2 separate regions of the Homo sapiens genome follow, and region 2 is linked to region 1. Evidence: fine-mapped expression QTL. Tissue or cell type: blood mononuclear cells. Region 1 holds a variant in brackets; the other region holds the start of a gene. All regions are shown on one strand. Distances are from middle to middle.

Region 1 (8,248 bases):
GGACTCAAGTGATCCTCTTGCCTCAGCCTCCTGAGTAGCTGGGACTACAGGCGTGCACCACCACACCCAGCTAATATGTTTATATTTAGCAGAGATGAGGTCTCACTATGTTGCCCAGGCTAGTCTCGAACTCCTGGGCTCAAGCAATCCTCTCACCCCAGCCTCCCAAACTGCTGGGATTACAGGTGTGGGGCACTGCGTCCAGCTAAATTTTTTTTATTTCTTTTCTTTTTTTTGGAGGCAGGGTCTCACTCTGTCACCCAGGCTGGAGCACAGTGATGTGAGCATAGCTCACTGAAGCCTTGACATCCTGGGCTCCAGCAATCCTCCTGCCTCAGCCTTTTGAGTAGCTGGCACTATGGACATGCCACTATGCCCAGGTCATTTTTTATTTTTAGTAGACGTGGGGTCTCGCTATGTTGATCAGGCTGGTCTTGAACTCCTGGGCTCAAACAATCCTCCCTCCTGGACCTCCCAAAGTGCTGAGATTACAGGTGGGCACCACCACACCTGGCAATTTTTTTTTTTTTTTTTGAGACGGAGTCTCGCTCTGTCACCCAGGCTGAAGTGCAGTGGCACAATCTCGCCTCACTGCAACCTCCACCTCCCAGGTTCAAGTGATTCTCCTGCCTCAGCCTCCTGAGTAGCTGGGATTACAGGCGTGTGCAACCATGCCAGCTAATTTTTGTATTTTTAGTAGAGACGGGGTTTCACCATGTTTGCCAGGCTGGTCTCAAACTCCTGACCTCAAGTGAGCCACCCACCTCGGCCTCCCATAGTGCTGGGATTACAGGCATGAGCCACCGTGCCCTGACCTGGTGCCCTGGCTAACTTTTTTTTAGAGACAGAATCTCACTATGCTGCTGAGGCTGGTCTTGAACTCCTAGGCTCACCCTCCTAAAGTGCTGAGATTACAGGCATGAGCCACCATTCCCAGCCAGCAACATTTTTTTTAAACTGTAAGTATATTCCATGCAATATTTGAGATATAATTTTGAAAATAATATTCATTGTCTTTTTGGAATCCAAGTTTAATTCTCCTCCTGTGTGTTAATTGGCAGTCCTGAGCCCATAACTTACTATGCATGAAGCTCCCAGAATGTGCCAGCACTAATCAAAGGGGTCCAGCACACACAAGCTGCAAATAAGTGGCTGAAGACCGGCTACAGTAGCTCACACCTGTAATCCCAGCACTTTGGGAGACCGAGGCAGGAGGACCACCTGAGTCCAGGAATTTGAGACCAACCTGGGCAACATGGTGAAACCCTGTCTGTACAAAAAGTACAAAAATTAGGCCAGGCATACTGGCTAACACCTGTAATCCCAGCACTGTGAGAGGCCAAGGTGGGTGGATCACTTGAGGTCAGAAATTTGAGACCAGCCTGGCCAACCTAGTGAAACCCCGTCTGTACTAAAAATACAAAAATTATTAGCCGGGTATGGTGGTATGTGCCTGTAGTCCCAGCTACTCGGGAGGCTGAGGCAGGAGAATCACTTGAACCTGGGAGGCAGAGATTGCAGTGAGCCGAGATCTCACTACTGCACTCCAGCCTGGGCAACAGAGGGAGACTCTGTCTAAAAATAAATACATACATACATACATACATACATACATACAAAAATTAGTCAGGCATGGTGGCACATGCCAGTAGTCCCAGCTACTTGGGAGGCTGAGGTGGGAGGATCACTTGAGCCCAGGAGGTCAAGGCTGCAGTGAGCCAAGATAGTGCCACTGTACTCCAGCCTGGGCGACTGAGTGAGACCCTGAATGGAAAAAAAAAAACAAAAAAAGGATGGACTGAATAAAAGTTCACAGTGTTTTGTTCCTGTTCAATTCTAGCATGTATAAACAGTCCATATTTGCTGTATGCTGGGTGTTGAATTTAGAAATATTAACTCATTGCCAAATCCCGGGAAGTAGGGAGAAGCTTTTGTTGTTTTGTTTTGTTTGAGATGGAGTCTCACTCTTTCACCCAGGCTGGAGTGCAGTGGCGCAGTCTCGGCTCACTGCAAGCCCCACCTTCTGCGTTCATACCATTCTCCTGCCTCAACCTCCTGAGTAGCTGGGACTACAGGCGCCCGCCGTCATGCCTGGCTAATTTTTCTATTTTTAGTAGAGACCGGGTTTCACTGTGTTAGCCAGGATGGTCTGGATCTCCTGACCCTGTGATCCACCCGCCTCGGCCTCCCAAAGTGCTGGGATTACAGGCGTGAGCCACCGTTCCCGGCTGTTTTGTTTTATTTTGTTTTGTTTGAGACAGGGTCTCCCTCTGTTGCCAAGGCTGGAGTGCAGTGGAAGGTCTCGGCTCACTGCAACCACTGCCTCCCAGGCTCAAGCGATTCTGTTGCCTCAGCCTCCCGAGTAGCTGGGATTGCAGGTGCGCCCCACCATGCCCGGCTAAGTTTTGTATTTTTAGTAGAGATGGGGTTTCACCATGTTGGCCAGGCTGGTCTCAAACTCCTGCCTTCAAGTGATCCACCTGCCTTGGCCTCCCAAAGTGTTGAGATTACAGGAGTGAGCCATTGCGCCTGGGCAGCAGAAGTTTTAAACCCTTTGCAGGCAGGAAAGTGAAGGCATGAGAGGGGAGGTGACTTTCTTGAGGTGGCAGAAACAGGCGGGCTCTCTGGGCAAAGTCACAGCTGCAAATCTGGGGTCTCCTGGAGACCATCGCGCCACTCTCGCACCCCGGCTTGTGTCAAACTCACTAGACAATTATCCCCGTGTTCTCAGACACAACTTCATCCAGGGGGTGTCCCGCCTGCCCTGAGACATTGTGGGGAGCAGGTGTGGGGCTCTCTCCTTAAGGGTGAGGTGGGTGAGAGATGGGAGGGTGGGGTGAGGGAAGGCTGAAGAGGCAGCTTCAGGGTCTTCCAAGGAGGTGACCTGGCTGGCCAGGGCCCAGGCAGTGGCAAAGACAGACCTCCCATAGGACCTCAGACCACCCAGCCGTCCGCACTGGGCAGGAAGGTAAGCTCAGCCCCCTCAGTCCTGCTCAAGGCAGAACTCAGTCTCCTCACCTCAGACCCCTAATGGCGGGGCCCTACCTCCACCTCAACCCCTCGCCCAGAGCCCCAGGGGTAGGGCCCTGTCTCTATCCGCCAAAACCCCGGGGCAAAGCACCGTCTCCCCAGATGCCCAGAGTATGGTAGGTCTCACCTCAGCCCCCCAAGATGGGGTGGAACACCCCTCAGTCCCCAGGGCATAACTGTGCCCCTCCCTCAGACCCTCCCAATAGGGTCCTGCCTGCCCCTTAGATCCTCAGATTAGAGCCCTGCCTCCCCTCTCAGACCTGAACCTGGCTAACTGGTGTCTTTTCTTTCTTTTTTTTTTTTTTTTTTTTTTTTTTTTGAGACAGAGTCTAGCTCTGTCGCCAAGGCTGGGGTGCAATGGCGCGGTATCCACTCACTGCAACCTCTGCCTCCTGGGTTCAAGCAATTCCCCTGCCTTAGCCTCCCGAGTAGCTGGGTCTACAGGTGCCCGCCAACATGCCCTGCTAATTTTTTTTTTGTATTTTTAGTAGAGACGGGGTTTCACTATGTTAACCAGGATGGCCTCAATTTCCTGACCTCGTGATCCGCCCGCCTTGGCCTCCCAGTGCTGGGATTACAGGTGTGAGCCACTGCACCTGGCCTGTCTTTTCATTTAAAAAAAAATTATTGGCCGGGTGCAGTGGCTCACACCTATAATCCCAACACTTCGGGAGGCCGAGGTGGGTGGATCACTAGGTCAGGAGATCGAGACCATGCTGGCTAACACAGTGAAACCCCGTCTCTACTAAAAATACGAAAAATTAGCCAGGTGTGGTGGTGGGCGCCTGTAGTCCCAGCTACTCGGGAGGCTGAGGCAGGAGAATGGCATGAACCCGGGAGGCGGAGCTTGCAGTGAGCCGAGATTGCGCCACTGCACTCCAGCCTGGGCGACAGAGCGAGACTCCGTCTCAAAAAATAAATAAATAAATAAATAAAAACATTATTTAATTATTTTATTATTATTATTACTATTTTTGACACAGAGTTTCACTCTGTCGCCCAGGCTGGATTGCAGTGGCGCAATCTCAGCTCCCTACAACCTCTGCCTCCCGGGTTCAAGTGATTCTCCTACCTCAGCCTCCCGAGTAGCTGGGATTACAGGCACCCGCCACCAAACCCAGCTAATTTTTTGTATTTTTAGTAGAGATGGGGTTTCCCCATGTTGGCCAGGCTGGTCTGGAACTCCTGATCTCAGGTGATCCACCTGCCTCAGCCTCCCAAGACACCTCTTCTCTATAAAAAATAAACTAAAAATTAAAAAAGAAACTTAAAAATCACATCCTTTTTTTTTTTTTTTTTTTTTAGAGACATGGTGTCACTACATTGCCGAGGCTGGTCTCGAACTCCCAGCCTCAAGCAGTGTTCCCACCTCAGCCTCCTAATGACTAAGGCTTTTGAGAACAGAAGGCATTCCCCATGTCCCCCCAGGACATTCACCCAGGGCCAACTGCAAAAGGATGAAGGACAGAGAGTTGCAGAAAGACAAACTCTCCTGATTCTTCATGTCTTATTATATTTCTGCAGAGGGTTCTCTTCCAAAGTTTGAAAGGCATGGCTTTAGTTTGTTAAATTGTGAACACTTTCTTTAAAAACAGCTTTGCTGGCCAGGCGTGGTGGTTCACACCTGTAATCCCAACATTTTGGGAGGCCAAGGTGGGTGGATTGCTTGAGCTCAGCAGTTTAAGACCAGCCTGGGCAACATGGTGAGACCCCATCTCTATAAAAAATTAGCCAGGAGTGGTGGCACGTGCCTGTAATCCCAGCTACTTGAGAGACTGAGGTGGGAGGATTGCCCGAGCCTGGGGAGGCTGAGGCTGCAGTGAGCTGTGATCACACCACC[A/G]CACTCCAGCCTGGGTGGCAGAGTGAGACCATGTCTCAAAAAAAATAAAATTAAATTAAAATAAAAATAGCTGGCCGGGCGTGGCAGCTCACGTCTGTAATTCCAGCACTTTGGGAAGTCAAGGCAGGAGACTGAGGCCAGTGGATCACTTGAGGTCAGGAGTTCGAAACCACCTGGCTAACATGGTGCAACCCCGTCTCTACTAAAATACAAAAATTAGCTGGTCATGGTGGTGCACCCCTGTATTCCCAGCTACTTGGGAGGCTGAGGCATGAGAATCACTTGAACCCAGGAAGTAGAGGTTGCAGTGAGCTGAGATCACACCGCTGCACTCTAGCCTGGGCCACAGAGCGAGACTCCATCTCAATAATAATAATAATAATAAATAATTTTTAAAAACAGCTTTATTGATATATAATTCATGTATTTTACAATCCACCTATTTAAAGTGTACAATTTGATGTTTTTGTTTGTTTGTTTGTTTGTTTTGAGATGGAGTCTCGCTCTGTCGCCCAGGCTGGAGTGCAGTGGCGCGATCTCAGCTCATTGCAAGCTCTGCCTCCCAGGTTCACGCCATTCTCCTGCCTCAGCCTCCCGAGTAGCTGGGACTACAGGCGCCCGCCACCACGCCTGGCTAATTTTTTGTATTTTTAGTAGAGATGGGGTTTCACCGTGTTAGCCAGGATGGTCTAGATCTCCTGACCTCGTGATCCGCCCGCCTCGGCCTCCCAAAGTGCTGAGATTACAGGCGTGAGCCACCGCGCCCAGCCAATTTGATGATTTTTTTGTAAATTCACAGAGTTGTACATTGATCACCACGATCCATTTTAGAACATTATTTTAGAACATTTTCACCTTCCCAAAAGAAAACCCACGTCCCCATCAGCAGTCACTTCCCATTCCCCTCCCCCAATCCCTGACAGCCACCAACCTGCTTCCTGTCTCTATGGATTTGCCTGTTCTGGGCATTTCATGTCAGTGGAATCTCACATTCTGTGGCCTTTTGTGTCCGGCTTCTCTCACTTAGGCATCATGTTTTTGGGGTTCACACACACTGCAACATGGATCAGTGCTTCCTTCCTTTTTATGGCTGAATCATGTTCTATGTATGGAAGGAACACATTTTGTGCGTTAATTCATCTGCTGACAGGCATTTGGGTTCTTTCCACCTTTGGCTACTGTGAATCGAGCGGCTGTGGACATTCCTGGCAAGTTGATGTGAGGATGTGTTTCCATTGCTCTGGGTATATGCTGAGAAGTAGAGTTTCTGGGTCACGTGGTAACTATGTTTAACATTTTGAGGAACTGCCAGACTTTCCCAAAGCCGTTGCAACATTGTACATTCTCACTAGTACTGTCTGAGAATTCTGATTTCCCCACATCCTCATCAACACCTGTTACTGTTCATTTTGGGGGTTTATGGGTTTTTAAAATAGCCACCCTCGTGGGTGTGTAGTGGTATCTCACTGTGGTCCTGATTTGCATTTCCGTAATGGCTAATGATTTTGAATATCTTTCTTTTTTTTTTTTTTTTTTTTTTTTTAGACAGACTCTCGCTCTGTCACCCAGGCTGGAGTGCAATGGTGTGATCGTGGCTCACTGCAACCTCCATCTCCCGGGTTCAAGCAATTCTTCTGCCTCAGCCTCCCAAGTAGCTGGGATTACAGGCACCTGCCACCAGGCCTGGCTAATTTTTTTGTATTTTTAGTAGAGATGGGGTTTCACCATGTTGGCCAGGCTGGTCTCGAATGCCCAACCTCAGGTGATCCACCTGTCTTGGCCTCCCAAAGTGCTGGGATTATAGGTGTGAGCCACCGCGCCCAGCCGATTTTGAATGTCTTTTGATATGCTCTTTGGCCATTTGCATATCTTATTTAATTTAATTTTAATTTTTCTTTTTTTTTTTTTTGGACATAGAGTCTCACTCTGTTCCCCAGGTTGGAGTGTGGTGGCACAATCTCATCTCACTGCAACCTCCGCCTCCCGGATTCAAGCGAGTCTCCTGGCTCAGACTCCCAAATAGCTGGGACTACAAGCATGCGCTTCCATGCCTGGCTAATTTTTGTATTTTTAGCAAAGATGGGGTTTCGCCATGTTGGCCAGGCTGGTGGTGGGCAGATCACTTGAGGTTAGGAGTTCGAGACCAGCCTGGCCAACATGGCGAAACCCTGTCTCTACTAAAAATACAAAAATTAGCCAGGTATGGTGGTGCACACCTGTAATCCCAGCTACTCGAGAGGCTGAGGCTGGGGAATCACTTGAACCCGGGAGACGGAGGTTACAGTGAGCCGAGATCGTGCCACTGCACTCCAGGCTGGGTGACAGAGCAAAAAACCCTGTCTCAAAAACAACAACAAAAAAAAAAACAAAAAAAGGTTTTTTTTAAAGACTGTTGTTTGCCTCATGAGATGGTGTTAGCATTTGTATTAATTTGCTAGGGCTTCCATGACAAGGTATTACAGACTGGGTGGTACCAAGATCAAAGTGTTAGCGGGGTTGGTTCCTTCTGAGGCTGTGAGGGAAGGATCTGTTCCAGGTTTTTGTTTGTTTGTTTGTTTTTTTGAGACGGAGTCTCGCTCTGTCACCCAGGCTGGACTGGAGTGCAGAGACGCGATCTCGGCTCACTGCAACCTCCGCCTCCCCGAGTTCAAGCAATTCTCTGCCTCAGCCTCCCCAGTAGCTGAGATTACGGGTGCCCACCAACATGCCCTGCTAATTTTTTTGTATTTTTAGTAGAGATGGGATTTCACCATCTTGGCCAGGTTGCTCTTGAACTCTTGACCTCGTGATCCACCCGCCTTGGCCTCCCAGAGTGCTGGGATTACAGGCGTGAGCCACCATAGCCGGCCTGTTCCAGGTCTTTCTACTTGGCTTGCAGGTGGCATCTTCTTCCTGTGTCTGCTCTTGGTCTTCCTTCTGTCCGTGTCTCTGTGTCCAAATCTCTTCTCTTTATAAGGACATCAGTCATGTTGGATTAGGACCCACCCTAAGGACCTCACCTTAACTTAATTACCTCTCTAAAGACCCTACTTCTGCCAGGAGAGGTGGCTCACGACTATAATCCCAGCACTTTGGGAGGCCGAGGGGGGCGAATCACCTGAGGTCAGGAGTTTGAAACCAGCCTGGCCAACATGGTGAAACCCTGTCTCTACTAAAAATACAAAAATTAGTTCGGCCGAGTGCGGTGGCTCACACCTGTAATCCTAGCACTTTAGGAGGCCGAGGTGGGCGGATCACCTGAGGATGGGAGTTTGAGACCAGCCTGGCCAACATGGAGAAACCCTGTCTCTACTAAAAAATACAATATTAGCCAAGCATGGTGGTGCGTGCCTGTAATCCCAGCTACTAGGGAGACTGAGGCAGGAGAATCACTTGAAC
Region 2 (8,000 bases), 64 kb after region 1:
GTGCCTCGAGGGCGCAGTGTGAGGTGCAAGGCAGAGCTCTGGCCCATTTAGGGGATAAAGGAGGGCTGCCCAGACGCAGGGATGCAGGCACTGAGACCTGAAGGGTGAGGAGGGGTCCCTGTCCCCCTTCGCAGCCCTGGCCCAGCTTGCCCCTGCTGGACTCCCATCATACACACCCTCTGCCACACACACCCTCTAGGAATGCCCCTCATGCCTCCATGTGGCAAATACCTGCTAACCTCCCCACCAGCTCCAACACCCTCCCTGGCCCCTTTGTTCCCCCGACACTTCGGGAGCCTCTCCCAGAGCCTCCCTCACACCCCGGCGAGGTCATCTGCTTACATGTCCACCTCCCTGGCTGGACTGGTACCTCCCCAAGGGAAGAGGACAGGACAGGGCTGACTGAACCCTGGCCGGGCTCACACAGGGCCCGGTGGCTGAGTGGCGAGAGGTGCAGGTACTCCGGGCATTCTGCTCTCAATCCTGGCTTAGCCCGTCCCTGGTTGTGTGACCTGGGACGAGGGACTTCCCAGCCTCTGGGCCTCCCTGTGAAGAGACGCATTCCAACAGGGCCACCTCCCAGGGTTACTCTGAGTCATAAGACAACAAGGGGAATGCTTTGCACAGAGCTCCCTCAGGGGCAGCCTTTAGGATCAACATGTCTGCGTTGGACAAATGAATGAAGGCAGGGTACGTGCAGCCTTCCTGTCATGCTAAGCTGGAAAACAAGGCCTCGAGACATGGGGGCAGGGGGTGGGGGAGGCCTCATTCCAGACAAATGCCAGCCACGGCTGGGCCCTCACAGGTGCCTCAGCAGACACGCACTGGACACCTGTGTGCCAGTCCCACTGCAGGTAGCCTGCCAGAGACCCAACAAAGAGATGAGAAAGAGAAGCAGTACACTAATAGCAGAGAACTGGGGGCCCCCCAAAGTCAGGAATGACCTCGATCACAGGAGGAAGAGTGTTCCGAGCAGAAAGAGCAGCAGGTGTAAAGGCCCTGGGGTAGCAGGAACCTGGAGTGTGAGGAAGTGAAAACAAGGCCAGGGTGGCTGAAGCTCACAGACAGAGTGGAGAAGAGAGTGGAGATAAGGTCATAGAGGTGGCCAGGGGCCTCAGGGTGAGGAGGGGAGCCGCCAGGGTTCCTGGAGCATTTTATAGGCTAGAAAGTGGTATCATTTGATGCACATCTTTAAAAGCTCCTTCTGGCCGGGCGCAGTGGCTCACACCTGTACTCCCAGCACTTTGGGAGTCCGAAGCGGGTGGATCACAAGGTCAGGAGTTCAAGACCAGCCTGGCCAATATGGTGAAAACCTGTCTCTACTAGAAATACAAAAATTAGCCGGGCATGGTGGTGGGTCCCACCTACTTGGGAGGCTGAGGCAGGAGAATGGCTTGAACCCAGGAGGCGGAGGTTCCAGTGAGCCGAGATCATGCCACTGCACTCCAGCCTGGGCGACAGAGCAAGACTCCATCTCAAAAGAAAAAAAAAAAACAACCTCCTTCTCAGGCCCCATGCAGTGCCTCACACCTGTAATACCAGCACTTTGGGAGGCTGAGGCAGGATCACTTGAGCCCAGGAGTTTGAGACCAGCCTGGGCAACATAGGGAATCCCCATCTCTCCAAAAAGTACAAAAATGAGCCTGGTGTGGGGATCTCTTGAGCCTCCAGTCTGGGCGCCAGAGTGAGACCCTGACTCCAAAAAAAAAGTTCCTTCTGGTTCAGGTGAATTATGAACTGCCAAAGGGGTGAGAGCAAGGCTAGGAGACCAGGGAAGAAGCTGGGACAGGTATGCAGGTGGGAAGTGGCAGTACCTGCAACAGGGCATGAAGCCATGGATGAATTCAGGTGTGTTCAGAAGGCAGAGACAATCTAATCCACTTATGATTGGCTGTAGGGATGAGACTGTACCAAGGTATCAAGGACAACTCCCAGGCTTGGGGACCCGCACACTAGGAACCCACCTTCCCATTTCCTTCCTGAAAGGGAGTCTTCCTTTCATCCCCACCACATCCCAAGGACTGTGGATTGTGGGCTGGGACTCTGGGTCAGGGGACAAAGGAGACTTGAGGTATCTTGACCAAGCTTCCCATCACCCTTCCCAGCCCTCAGGATGCCAACTAATGGGGGTTGTGGAGAGGCTTTAGTTCCACTCTGAGGGTGGGTCACCATCCCACTTTTCAGGTGGGGAGACTGAACCCCGAAGAACCACCAGACCCAAATTCCAGGATGACTGAGGAACCCTGAAGGAATTTCAACCTTCCAACAGCCAGGTGGGGACGATCCACACTTCATAATGAGGGGACAGCTAGAAGAGAACGTCACTGGCCTCGAGTCACCCAGCTCATCTGTTGAGCATTCACTATCCTGAGTCCTTTACGACGTCAGTTACCTAAATTGTCACCACCCTAAGAGGTTCAGACTACTGCTACCCTCATTTCACAGGGACAATCCATGCGGATCGGAGATAAAAGTTTTTCATTCTTAGAGGCGGGTAAGGGCCCAGAATGGTGGAGGTGGGGTCAGGGCCCGGGGAACCGGGACAATCGGCGATGTCGCACTTCCTTTGGCGACAAAGCCCTGCATATCGCGGTGCCAAGCCCCCTCCCCCGCCCCGGGGCCCAGGCCGGCCTCCCAAATTCTCCTGAACTGAAGAGATCCAGGTCCGGCGTGCTGAGAACGAGGCCAGACCAGGGGGTCTTACGGGACCCCATCCCCACCCCAGACGATTTCCGGGGGGAGCCGCAACCCGGAAATGAATGAGTTGTCAGGGCTTGGTATCCTGGATGGGGTCAGGGGTCGGAGAAGGAGTGGCAGTGGGATCAGCAGGAAGCTCTCGGTAGGGTCCGGGGGTCGAAGGTCACAGGTGAGTGGGAGGGGCGGGCCGGACCTGAGGGGACCGGGCAGAACGGAGAGGGGCCTAGGGGGATACTAGAGGTGGGTGGGACCACAGCGCCATTTTGTCTAGCAGAGGGGGAGTGGGGGCCTGGAGGCCATCCTCACCATCTTCTGTTTCCTCCGTCGCCGCCTCGGCCGCCGCCTCAGCCTCCACCGCCGCCACCAGAGCCGCCTTCTTAGCCGCCGCCTCACAGTAACTTCCAGCCACGGCACAGCCCACACTGATGGCGCCACCACCTCCCTGTCATTGGTGTGCAGTCTAGCCCCGCCCCCACATAGGAGCGCTTTGCACGCTTCCATTGGCCGCATCCAGCTAACTCATGCGCCCATTGGTTGCCACGCCTCCTCCCATTGTGGTCAAGTTCGGTTGAAGAAGCAAAGCACCTCCCGGTACTTGGAAGCAATGAAAGTGAGATCCGGAAGTGGGCGGAGGCCTCGGCCGCGAAGTCTCTTGGGAGCTGTAGTTTACAGCTCCGCGAGGCTCTCTAGAGCTTTTGTGTGTCTGTGTGTTTTTAAGATGCGAGGTTCGGCCGGGTGCGGTGGCTCACTCCTGTAATCTTAGCACTTTGGGAGGCCGAGGCGGGTAGATCGCCTGAGGTCAGCAGTTCGAGACCAGCCTGGCCAGCATGGTGAAACCCCATCTCTGCGCCTGTAATTCCAGCTAGTAGGGAGGCTGAGGCAGGAGAATCACTTGAACCCGGGAGGCGGAGGTTGCAGTGAGCCAAGATCGTGCCATTGCACTCCAGCCTGGGCAACAAGAGCGAAAATCAGTCTCAAAAAAAAAAAAAAAAAGCCAGCCGGGCGCAGTGGCTCACGCCTGTAATCCCAGCACTTTGGGAGGCCGACGCGGGTGGATCACGAGGTCAGGAGATCGAGACCGTCCTGGCTAACACGGTGAAACCACGTCTCTACTAAAAATACAAAAAATTAGCCGGGCGTGGTGGCGGACGCCTGTAGTCCCAGCTACTCCGGAGGCCGAAGCAGGACAACGGCGTGAACCGTGAGTGAGGCGGATCTTGCAGTGAGCTGAGATCGCGCCACTGCACTCCAGCCTGGCGGACAGAGGGAGACTCTGTCTCAAAAAAAAAAAGGCGGGGCACGGTGGCTCACGCCTGTAATCCCAGCAATCCCAGCACTTTGGGAAGCCGAGGCGGGCGGATCACGAGGTCAGGAGTTTGAGACCAGCCTGGCCAACATGGTGAAACCCCATCTCTACTAAAATACAAAAATTAGCCGGGCGTGGTGGCGGGCGCCTGTCATCCCAGCTACTCAAGAGGCTGAGGCAGGAGAATCGCTTAAAACCAGAAGGCGGAGGTGTCAGTCAGCCGAGATTAAGCCACTACAGTCCAGTCTGGGCAACAAGAGCTAAACTCCCTCTCAAAAGAAAAAAAAAAAAAAGACACAGGGGTCTTGCTATGTTTCCCAAGCTGGTCTCGAACTTCTGGCCTCAAGCAATCCTCCAGACTTGGCTTCCCAAAGTTCTGGGAGCCATCGTGCCGGCATCTTCTTGTGTTTATTACGTTTTTAAAGCAGCCCTAGAAGATAAGAACCATAACACTCCCTAGCTCCTCCTCGACACCGTCTTGCTCAACCACCTCCCGTAACTCCCTAGTATTCAATCCCACCTCCTTGGCCCCATTTATGGGCACCTGCGGTCTTCATTGCCCACCTGTGTCCTCACCTCTAACCAATTCCTTCTATGTCTGGGCTCTCCCAGACCTTGCCATTTCCTCCAAGACTTCCCTGACTGCATTCTTCAAAAAGGCAAGTCAGGTACCTTCCCTGAAGTCCTACAGCCCTCACAATCCCCCTCCCAGCCCTGACACCTCTGTGTCCAAACTGCCTTCCTGACTTCCAGGGCAAAGAATGGGCACCCAGCACACAGCAATTGCACAGTGAAGTTGCTAAGTGGAAGCTACTAAGTATTATTACTCCAACAGCAACAGAGCAGAGGAGAAACCAGCACTGCATTTTATAGGCGACAAATGCACCTCACAGTGTTAAATTCTTGCTCAAAATCAAACATCCCCAAGGGACAAGTGGAAGATTCAAACTCCTTATGGGCTGGAGTTCAAGACCAGCCTGGTCAACATGGTGAAACTCCCCTCTACTAAAAATACATAAATTAGCTGGGCGTGGTGGCATGCACCTGTAATCCCAGCTACTTGGGAGGCTGAGGCACCAGAATTGCTTGAACCCAGGAGGCAGAGGTTGCAGTAAGCAGGGATCCGACAACTGCACTCCAGCCTGGGTGACAGAGCGAGACCCTGTTTCAAAAACAAACACCCCCCCGCACACACACACAGTTTTCCACCAGTCTTCCCAGACCTATAAAATTTATGACACAGGCTGGGCATGACGGCTCACACCTGTAATCCCAGCACTTTGGGAGGCCGAGGCAGGCAGATCACCTGAGGTCAGGAGTTCGAGACCAGCCTGGCCAACATGGTTGAAACCCCGTCTCTACTAAAAATACAAAAATTAGCCGGGTGTGGTGGTGGGCGCCTATAATCCCAGCTATTCGGGAGGCTGAGGCAGGAGATTGCTTGAACCCAGGAGAGGGAGTTTGCAGTGAGCCGAGATCGTGCCACTGCACTCCAGCCTGGGGGACAGAGCGCAGTGGTTCATGCCTGTAATCCCAGCACTTTGGGAGGCAGAGGAGGGCGGATCACCTGAGGTCGGGAGCTCGAGACCAGCCTGACCAACATGGAGAAACCCCATCTCTACTAAAAATACAAAATTAGCCGGGCGTGGTGGCGCATGCCTGTAATCCCAGCTACTCGGGAGGGTGAGGCAGGAGAATCGCTTGAACCCGCAAGGCGGAGGTTTTAATGAGCCGAGATCCCCCCATTGCACTCCAACCTGGGCAACAAAAGGGAAACTGTCTCAAAAAAAAAAAAGAGTTATGACACATATAAGGCAAGTGGAACTTTGAACATTTATTACACGTTTAATAATATTTCAAAATTATTGATAATTCTTTTGGATGTGATAAGCTTTGTAATTGTCTTTTAATGAGCTCTCATCTTGGAGAGATACATTCTGAAATATTTACAGAAGAAATAATCCGATGCCTGAGATCAGCTTCAAAAGAACTCAGGATGGGGCAGGGACGGGTTGTAGGTAGTCGGTAGTCAGGGTACTGGGTACACGGATGTTCTTTGTACTGTTCTTTGGTCTGTTGCGCAGGTTCGAAATGCTTCCTAATTAAAAAGCCTAAAAAGGGACTTGGCAAGCTCCCATCCAGACTTCAACCCCACAATATGGAGAGCACTCAGGTCCGAGGCGTTCCTGCTCCCCAGCTCCCTGCAAAAATAGCGCCAGGCAAGGTCCGAGGCGAGGGCGATGCTTCCATGAGGGTCCCGCCGACTGCGTCGCGATCCTCAATGGCTCAGCGACTTGCGGCCCTTGAGCATTCGGCGAAGGATGACCTGCACGCCGGCCGGCGTGCTCAGGCGCCGGACCCAGCCGTGCTTGTTCTTGCGTTTGATGTTGCTCGGCTGATACTCATTCCCGCGAGCCTTGCCCCGGGCCTGCTGCGGGGTGGGGAGGCCCCAGGCGTCTGGGAACCCCAGCCAGGCCCGGGGCTGGAGCCACCTGCGTGGGTAGAGGGACGGCGAGAAAGGTCAGACGGGGCGCTGGGTGACCTTGGCGCTCAACCTCTCTGAGCCTCGGCTCCCGGAGACAGAGCCTGGCTGCAAAATGCGCAAGGCACTGGCAGGTCACGCGGGCAGTGAAGAGTGGCGCCAGCCTCCGAAGCCGCCCTTATTCCCTGATTTGGGGAAGGGTCCCCCTGAGGACTTACCTGCCACCCAGCAACGCTGCCGACCTACTCGTGGGGCCCAACAGGGATCCAGCCAAGACAGCCATATCCGCAGTGGGTCCCGCAGTACCGGCTGCGGGCGATTCCGGAGCCCAGAGCCGCTCCAGCCCTGGAACAAAGGATTATGGGAAATGTAGTTTCTCCTAACGTGCAAAAAAGAGGCCGTTGGGGAAAACCCTGAAGTTGTAGTTCTGCGCCTGCGCAACAGAGGCGCGCCAGTCTATATCCGCGGGGCACAGGGATGCTCTGCATACACACCAACAGGTAGCCGGCGAACGGCGCCTTCTGAGCAAGCGCGTGCGCACAAGGCATTATCTCCCGCGGTCAGCTGGCAGCTGAGCTGTAGTTCTCTCTCCTATTGACCGGCAGAGGGTGCCCCGCGGTGGCCGGGCGCAGCTGGTGGCAGCTGCAGGAAGCGGCTGGTTGGTCTTCCCGCCCCCAGCGGGAGCTGGGCAGATGGCACACAGCTGGCTGGCAGCTTGTCCTGGCTGCAGCCAAGTCTCCGCCTCTTGGCAGGAAGCCGAGGAGGCCTGAGTTCAAGCTCGCTGCGTGTCCTTGGGGTGGTCCCTGCGCCACTCTGGGCTTTCTCAATCTGTAAACTCAGGGATTGCAAGCTTGTCTTTGGCAATCTTGCCCCCATTTTGGGCCCTAGAAGAATTCTCCTCTGTTGTTAGAACCAAAAAAAAAAAAAAAAAAAAGGAAGAAAAATTTTCTGATACTCAGATCTGAACCCCTCCCCTACTCACACACTATCCTTGGCTCCCCATTTCCCCAGGTAAAACCTGCTCAGCCCTTCCATCAGGCATGCAAAACCCTCTACACACACCATCTTACATTTCAGCCACACTCTCCTCTCTGCCTGGTGTTCCCCTATCCGCCCTTTAAAAATCCTTTCCTCTCCAAGGGCTGAGTGAGGTGTGGCTCATGCCTGTAATTCCAGCATTTTGGGAGGCTGAGGAGGGAGGATCCCTTGGGGCCAGGAGTTTGAGACCAGCCTGGGGACATGGTAGCAACCACCTATAGTCTCAAGTACTTGAAGGTGAGGTGGGAGGATTCCCTGAACCCAGGAGATCCAGGCTGTAGTGAGCAATGATAGCGCCAATGCACTGCAGCCTGGGCAACGGAGTGAGATCCTTTCTCAAAAAAAAAAGGAGTCGTCTTCTCTCAACCGCTGTCCATTCTTCTGGCCCGACTGCTTTCCCTTGACTCTCCCCCAAGTTCAAGGGCTCCTCAAGGGCCAGGGGCCTGGGGCTGTATCCCTACAAGTGCCAGCTTGGGG

The links. PIP is the estimated chance that this variant, and not a neighbour inherited with it, causes the effect.
Region 2: it holds the start of DDA1, and the variant in region 1 is fine-mapped to the expression of DDA1 in blood mononuclear cells (TOPMed, PIP above 0.99).

Annotation. Positions count from the first base shown.
Region 1 is chr19:17,368,167-17,376,414 of GRCh38, reverse strand. The region is part of intron 1 of PLVAP (plasmalemma vesicle associated protein); the gene reads left to right. Among named protein-coding and RNA genes, the nearest start is that of PLVAP, 5.1 kb to the left of the region's middle. The variant A/G (reference allele first, on the strand shown) is at 4,871.
Region 2 is chr19:17,304,661-17,312,660 of GRCh38, reverse strand. It overlaps DDA1 (DET1 and DDB1 associated 1), which reads right to left and starts at 3,098. Exons shown (of 5, transcript NM_024050.6): 1 at 3,004-3,098. The coding sequence starts at 3,006. MRPL34 (mitochondrial ribosomal protein L34) reads right to left here and starts at 6,789. Exons shown (of 2, transcript NM_023937.4): 1 at 6,704-6,789; 2 at 5,818-6,495. The coding sequence starts at 6,768. The coding sequence ends at 6,282. RefSeq lists enhancers at 1-444, 2,670-3,233, 3,323-3,512, 3,234-3,795, 6,766-6,845 and silencers at 2,783-2,882, 6,476-6,535.